Homo sapiens: one gene and its partner. The protein of the gene in region 2 interacts with the protein of the main gene of each other region in a pairwise test. Each region holds a gene or a part of one and is shown on either strand. Other genes may lie near its edges.

Region 1 (4,607 bases), on a different chromosome or scaffold from region 2:
CACTTGAGATTTATGATTACAAAGCCTGTGACCAAGTTTTGAACACAAAGGAAAAATAATTGCAAAAGTTACAGAATTACAGCATTTTCTTTCATTGACAATTAAATTCAGACTTCACAATAACATTCTAACCTTACTTCATTATACATTAATCTTGCAGTGGAAATTAGAGGCTTTTAAAGGAGTATTTCTGCTACAATAAAAAAAAGCGTCTTACTACTGTACAACAATAAGGTTGTATTGAGAGTTACAAGTAAACTATTAGGCCTTGTTAGCTAATTATAGTATTGGCATTCACTTAAGTTAGTCAGTTTCTCACTTAATGTCATTTTCTCCTATTCAACTGCTTCAGTTCAAAACGTTTTGACTCCTAAAAAGGGAATACATCATTGTTGCCTTTCCTCAGTCTAACTGCACACCACTTTCCAAAGCAATAGCTTCAATCATGCTTCATAAAATCCCCTGCAAGTATACTGTTGGACACATAAATCAGCAAGCTGAGATTTTAGTATTTCTAAGGCAAGACCAGGGATCACTGACTGGTGGCTTTTCCATGGCCCTCTTTACAAGAGAATAAACAAAATCATGAGTTACACTAGGTCTGTTTTTTTAAACAGCTCCCGGTGGTGTGTCTGATACTTGCTGCTGCATCCTTAATTAGAGAACAAAACACTAGCATAGAGGAATTGGACTCCAGGATGAGGATATCTATATCCAAGCATCTCTGACTTCATCAGGACACATGGCATAGAAGTACTATATGTTCCCTTTCACAAAAGCTACGTCTCTCTGATATATATCTGTGTCTCTATGAGTGCCACACATTGTGAAATTGTACTAGATAGAGAGATCTTTACAATGATGGTCTCCTTCTACCCTGTTTCATTACAGTGAATATGGGCTCCCCTTCAGAGATGCTTGTCTCAGAGTGCCTCTTCATAACCACCTCGTATCCTGACTTACAAATTAGCTGAATCACAATTTCACATCTATGTTACATGTACACATCCAAATTTTATGTCTCTGTGTACTATTTAAACCTATATATCTAAACATTTCTAATTTCCTATGTCTCCAAATTCCAACACACTTAGCCTCTACAATGATAAATTCAGATTCCACAACTGAGACATTTTTCTTCTCCAAACCACTCACAATGTAATCCTAAGTCTGCATAAACTTGTTTCCTATTATGCTCCCATTCTGCCCCACACTACCTACACTTATTTAATTGCAGTTGTATTTTAACTGCAATTTTCAGGGATTGTTTCTTGGTGCTCAAAAATACCTGTCTATGCTATAAATGAACAGTTAAACACAATCAGCAGCTATCTGAAAATTAAAGAAGCATATCTGTAGGACATATGTGCATGCTGATCTTTGCTTAAGAACCACTGAATTAACGAATTGGGCTAGTATTAGCTTCAGATGGACATATCTGCAATTTTGCTAAGACTGAAATATTTCATACTCTATGTTAGGAAGGGAAAATGAGCAGAATCTTATCAAGACACTTTACAAACTATAGGAATATCCAACATTTGCATACTGATTTCTGAACATTAAATCTGCATCCAATCGTGTTTCATCCGCCACTAACACTATAGCTGTGGGGAGGAGAAGGGCAGAAAAAGGAAGGCTTCACATCCAAAATGTCAAGCCCTGCTGAAGAATGATAGAAGGACTCTGTGGAAGAGCAGAAACCAACTTCTGGGCTTAAAATGGAGTTCTACCACCCCCTGCTGGACCAAACGAGCAATACAGAAGAGGCTAAAAATGCTTAGAACTGAATATCTTGGGGATATTTTAACTTGTCTTGTAATTTATTATATTATTTTAAAAAACCAATTTCACACTACACTAACAACATAACATTCTTTGCAATCATTACATATCTCAAAATTAGTGCTATTTTATTTTTCCTTTAAAGACTTTCACCAATGCATGTTTTAGCATTTTGTGTCCCTAATTAAACGTCCAAACTTGTCTGGACAGTTGAAAATGCTTCCATTTATTGTAAATATATTTCATGTGAGTGTTTACTATCTAAACAGCCAGATAAATTCATATCTATCTCTCTAGAGACAAACAGTGATAGCTTCCACAAATTCCCTCTCAGGTTATTCTACCAGGCTATTCATTTTTTTTTTTTAAGAGATAAAAGCTTCCACCAGTTCTCCCACAACCCCAAAAATCCTCTACAGGTGTAATTACAATGTAATGTTATAAAATGATTCCACCTTTCTGTATTAATAAGGGGTTGGGGTCAAAATGAATGACTGCAACACATCCCTAGTTTTATCCATTTGCTTTCTTACACACAATATCCACGGCCCCTCTCTTAGTTTCCAACAGAAATAAGCCATCATCATTCACTTCATAGTCAGGAATTAGGGTTTTGGGAAAGGGGTGGAAAAAAAAAAGAGTCTCCAAGAATCGAACGTCTTGCACACAGCAGATATTTTGCAAATGAGTTTAACACTGATAGTTTTTGCTGCTTCTGTAAAACACCATCGTGCCCTTTCCTTCCGCAACCTCAGATATTTCACTGTTAACACACTCATCCAATTTCTGATAATAAAAATAAGAGAAAGCCATAATCCCAGAGGAAAAAAAAAGAAGAAGAAGAAGCGGTTTCCCTGGATATCCTGCTCACCGATTCCCCTCTCCAATTCTGTATTTTCCCTTCTCTTATTTAAGGGTCTCCACACAACAGATACAATTTTAGGGACAGCTAGGAGAAAGAACGAAAATAATAATAACAACAACAGCAATAACTGTAACTTTAGTTCTTTCATTTCATTCTTCCTGCGCCTCCCTCTTTGCCTCTCTTGGCCGGGTGGAAGGGGGAGGGAAAGTAAATGCAATAAAGCGCCACACTCCTACCTTGCCCGCTACTGACAAGCAACCCCAGCAGGTAGAAGGAGAGGAGGAGGCTCATGTTCAGGACGTGACACCGGTGGACAGTTTCAAAGTTATTAAGTCCAGCCCTGGAGAGAGAACCTTTCGCTGCCCCGGCCGCCTCTGCTAGAGCCGCCGCCGCCGCTCCCGCGGTGCCCCAGCCGCCCGCAGCCCGCGCGCTCCTCCTCGCAAAGTGACTGCAAGCTCCGCTCTTGCCGCACTATATCCAGGCAGCGGCGGCGGCAGCGGCGGCAGAAGCAGCAGCAGCAGCGGCCGCCGCGGCGGCAGCAGAGCCGGGCGGGGAGGGCGGCGGGGGCGGGGGCGCGGCGAGGGGAGGTGCGGCCGAGGCGTATCCCTCCGCGCTGCACGGCGGCCGCTCTTCCGCGAGGCGCGCGGTCCCGGGATTCGTCCGCAGTGGAGCTCGAAGTCACGGGTTCGGTCCCCGGTGCCTCCGCCTAGAGGGGCGGCCGCGATCGCGAAGGCGCCACTCGCCCGCCGGCCATCCGCAGGTTCATGCACGCCCTGAGCCGAGAAGGGCGTGGGGATGGGGGCAGCCTGGAGCTCCTTCACAGCCGCCGGCTGCCTCAGGACAGCTGAGCTGATGCTGAGCTGAGCTGAGCTGAGCTGATGCTCATGCAGATGCTGATGCTGATGCTGATGCTGATACTGATACTGCAGGCGACCGCCCCGAGCGCGCCCCGGCTCAACGTGAATGGGGGATCTGGAGGCGGGCGGTGTGCCCCGCAGCTTATTCCTTTTGGGCGTGGGAGGAGGGAGATTCTTGTCTCTCCGTGGACCTCCTTCTCCCTCTCTCGCTCAAACCTGGAGCAGGCTGGCCCCTTGCGCGGCTGTCCCCTTCCCACGCTCCCCACCCCGCCGCGACAGAGGGGAAGCAATTGTACCCTAAAGTCTACACTGTCTGTCTCCTCAGGCGCTAAAGGGTGGGCGGAAAAATAACGTACAGAGTGTTTCCTCTACATCTCGACCCATTGCTGTTGGGAGCGGCACCTTACGGGAGAGACACTGGAGAGGGGACGAGCCGCGGGAGGGGCTGCGTTCAACTCAGCCTTAGCCTCAGCTGTGTCCTTAGAGGCCTGAAGTCTCTCCTGGCCTCACTCCGCGGGCTCTGCCCTCGGTCCCAGTGCGCTGCACTGGCCAGATCCCCGCCAGGAGTGCACCGAGGGAGGACTGCAAATGTGCAAAGATGAGTTGGGTCGCGGGGGGGAGACCTTCCCCAGATCAGTGCCCTACCCCGAACACCCACGTACCCGCGTGTGCGAGTGTAAATTGAAGTGAGGGAGCCGTGGCAAACGCCCGGAACTAACTCTCTGCTCCTTAAGATTGGGGCTTATCGTTATTTCTCCTAGAAGGGTAGGAAAACGTTTGTGAGATTAACGTCACCTCTCCTGCAAGAGCGGTTAAGAGGCAGAATCACCGGCCCGGGTGCGGAGCCCATGTCAATCTGGCCTGGGGTTACCGCGACCTGCAAACGCTGACGATGGGTCCTTTCATCTGCACTTTCTCTCTGGCTCCTTAGAAAACTCAACTGCCTCGCCCCGGCCTCCACAAGGACCCTAGCTCCTTCCTTATCAGTGAGGACATAGAAATAGCGGGGGTTGGAGAGGGGGGAGGTAGAAATGTAGAGCTCAGAATCCAGCCCCAGCCTGGGGATTTCACGCTGAAAAGGGCAGTGCATTGCCTTCAGG
Region 2 (3,817 bases):
TTAATGTTAAGAGTGAAAGTAAAATGTAAGCTCCATGAGTTTGTTCAATGTTGTGTCCCCAGCAACTAGAACAGGGCCTGATTCCTAGCAGAGACTCCAGGAATATTTGTGGAATGGTTCCTCAAGTTAGTCTCAAGGCTATGAGGGTCTTATATGTGGAGGATGGGTAACGAACACTACAGATGTGGGTGTGCTTACTCTGAGCCCCAGAGAAATAGTCTAGCTTCATCCAGAGTCATTGAGGGGGTGGCTTTGATGCAATTTTGCTTCTCTCCCAGTGGCAGCTCTGAGCATGAAACATGTATTAAATAGATTGGGCTTCTCAAATCTAGTTGTATATTATAATCTCCAAGGGTGCTTTTAAAAAAAATCTCAATACTCATGACTTACCATTGCTATTTAATTCAGCATCCCTGAAGGTGAGACCATATATCAGTTTTTTTTGGAAGCTCAGCAGGTGATTTCACTGTGCAACCAAGCATGAGTCCCACGTCCCGCTAGAGCAGTGGTTTTCAAAGGGAGGTCCCTGATGGTCTTTTCAGCATTAAAAAAAAAAAAATTCTAGAGGAATCAGAGCAATCAGAATCATACCCCCACCATAAACTGAACAAACTCTGGGGGAGGGGCTGAGGGATCTGGGTTTTAACCAGTACTCTGGGTGATTATGGTGCTGGTCAAAGTTTGCCAACACTGCTCCAGAAGACACTTGGATTTGGAGGGTGCGGAGTGGGCCCCAGAGTCTGCATTTCTAACAATCTCCCAGAGCAGGCAAATGCTGTTGCTCTGAGAACTACCACTAAGCTGCAGACATTTTTCTTCTGAAGCTCTACTGGGGTTCCCTATCAACTGGGGCCTGAGCAACACTCAGCCATGCAGAACACAGCTGGCAAGTGATGGAAAAGCATCCGACAAAAATTTCTGAAAACCCTTCCCACAGGAACAAAATGAGAAGAAAGAACCCTTTCTCTAAGGTTTCAGGAGCACTCTCTGCTCCCTGTTTACAACAAAACAAAAACTTTTTGTTATGTCTTGGCTATGTAACATTAATAAAACAACCTTAGAGTACACTAACGATGCCATTACCAAATAGCATAATTTTTAATAAATACTAACTAAAGCATACCAATGTAAATGAGAATATTAAGTCGGTATTCATTCTAATATTTAAATATTAGAACATATATCCTGTGAAAACCTTAATGCTTTTTACAAATACTTTATTTTTCTTGTAATCTGTCAAAACATCTAGTCTCAGGTGTACTAAGTGCTGAATACGACTGTCTCCTATGTTTTCTTAAATGCACCCCAAATCTGTAGAAGTCTTGACAACTGCCACATGAGCTGTAGACATTTTGACAAGCTACGGCAACCAATTTGAAAGTCTTTTAGATATTATAGGATCTTGGTAAAATTGTGCTAATAATTTTGGCATGAAAAAAGGAAAAGTATAAACAATAAAATTTTATATACTGTTTAACATAGTAAGTGGTATTGTCCACTGTGTACTAAAATGCACTTCCAAAAAAGCCTCCTGAATCCATTTGCATAAGAAGCCATTATCAACTAGAGCACCTTCTCAGGAGCACCAGCTACACTGGTGTGTTACCAGCAATGCTTTCTACAACGTAGAGAATGTTCTCAATCCGTACTGCTCAATATGGCACCGCTGAACACATGGGCTGATTGACAGCTTGAAATGTGGCTAATCAGCTGAGGAACTTCAGTACATACTTAACTTTAATTAAGTTAAACAGCCACATGTGACTAGTGGCCACCTTCTTGGACAGCACAGTTGTCTAAGCTCCTCTGCAGTTTACAATAAATAAACCAGGGGTGCTATACTCCATTTCAATGGCTTATAGAGTAATAAATGCCTAAGAACTATTCTTTGGTTAAACAGAGAAATTTGTTTTGTAGCATCATTTGAATAAAAACAAAATTTGGGGGAGCCTCTTTTCACCCTTGTGCTTATGTTTTCTTTCACTACCGAATTTGATTTAGTAACTCTTTGTCAGTTAAGGTTACCTGAGGCTGTCATTCAAGCCAGCTGCACAATCATAGGACAGTTTATTACTACCCATCGTTGCATTAGAGATAATCGAAACACATTCCAACACATACAGAATTGTATTCACTTTAGTGTCACAAGAGTTCAATTCTACCTTAAAAGTATGTTAGCACTATAAAGCTGCAAATCTGATTTTAAAGTTAGAATTCAAGTAAAGTTTCATTTTCCTTTTTTAAACTAAAGATTACTACATACTGCTTCCCTGCAGATATTTGGAAATGTGTGTGTACATGCAAAGACAGTTGAAATAATTTTTTATTGATGTGTGACTCTGAAAATAAAAATAATGATATAACAAATTTAGATATACTTGGAATAGATTGGGCCCCATCCTTGGTCACACCATCTAGGCTGTTGGCAGAGACAATTCTTGACTCTGTCTTCATTCTCAGCTCTTTGGATCAGTCTCAGCCTCGAGGGCAACTTTATTTGTCTTTCCCACTCCTTCAAAATGAGGAACCCATTTACGAGAAATGGACAAGGAAGCAGAATGTTCACAGATAAACAACCCCATCAAGGAGATGTTCTGATTCAACAGTTTCTGATAGGTAGAGTATGGTGCACATTAAGTGTAGTTCAGTTCTTGTTTCCCTTATGGGAAATTTTTCAAGAAAAATATGGAACATTAACTCATCAAAGCTATTACAAATTATTTTATCTGTATACATATGTTTCAGATGGGTCAGATTTAGGATATATTCAGTGTCACAATTTTTACATTACATGGTGTGTGTGTGTGTACTTAGTGGTATATTGAGGCCTCTTGTGTAATTGTAGATGCATTGATATCTATTTTATAGAACTGTTTAAGGGGAGGATGTATTTACAAAGTATAGTAGAAAAAATATTGAAATGGGAAGTTAGGGAATATGTACATTATTCCAACAGCCATTAATGAACAGTACTCAAGTTTGATGCATTAATTTACTCACTGACTCAATAAACCATTAAGAAGAGCCTACTACAGTCTGGGAATCCCTACTCTGAAAATCCAAAATCTGAAATCCAAAAATCCCAAACATTTTGAGCACTGACATGAATGTCACAGTAGAAAATTCTACACCTGACACCTTTGCTTTCTGATGGTATAATGTACATAAACTTTGTTTCATGTACAACATTATTTAAAATGTCATATAAACTTACCTTCAGGCTATGAGTTATGTATGAAATACAAATGAATTTTGTCTTTAGACTGGGGGGGAGTCCCATCCCAAGAAATCTCATTATGGATACGCAAGTATTCTAAAATCGCCCCCCGCCAAAATCTGAAATCCAAAACACTTCTGATCCCCTGCATTTCAAACAAGGGATGCTTGACCTGTCTACACCATGTACAAATGAGGAGTTTGTTTTTGAAGAGCTCTCAACAATTCCCTTATATGGAGTATTTTACTTTGATGTTATTTTGGAGATCTATCGATGGAGTATTTTTGTTTGTACAGAATACTATCTGGCCACAATTAAGACACTGTTCTTTGGGGGAGTAGGAGCCCCTAAGAATATGGCACTCTTAAACCAGAAAGTGGCACTCGTTTTAGTGCCAAGCACATTTGCTTCCAGATTCTTTCACGCTGAATCTTCTATGGAGGGAGTAGGAATGGCAGAGGAGTCATAAGGGGACAATTCTCAGAACTTGAAAATTTATTCAATCCTCATTCTTTGGGGATCTGGCAGTGCAAACAAAACAAAACAAATCCCCCCAATGCTTATATCCAGTTAACAAGAGACCTGACAGCCTGTAATCTC

Evidence for each region.
Region 1: the proteins of CTNND2 (region 2) and NCAM2 interact in a two-hybrid assay, tested with the Homo sapiens proteins (one large-scale study listed by BioGRID and IntAct).

The regions. Positions count from the first base shown.
Region 1 is NC_000021.9:20,996,898-21,001,504, reverse strand, and holds the start of NCAM2 (neural cell adhesion molecule 2 isoform 2 precursor), read right to left. Parts: upstream 3,097-4,607; 5' UTR 2,942-3,096; coding exon 2,887-2,941; intron 1-2,886. UniProt on the Homo sapiens protein: May play important roles in selective fasciculation and zone-to-zone projection of the primary olfactory axons.
Region 2 is NC_000005.10:11,386,696-11,390,512, forward strand, and holds part of CTNND2 (catenin delta-2), read right to left. Parts: intron 1-3,817. UniProt on the Homo sapiens protein: Has a critical role in neuronal development, particularly in the formation and/or maintenance of dendritic spines and synapses. Involved in the regulation of Wnt signaling.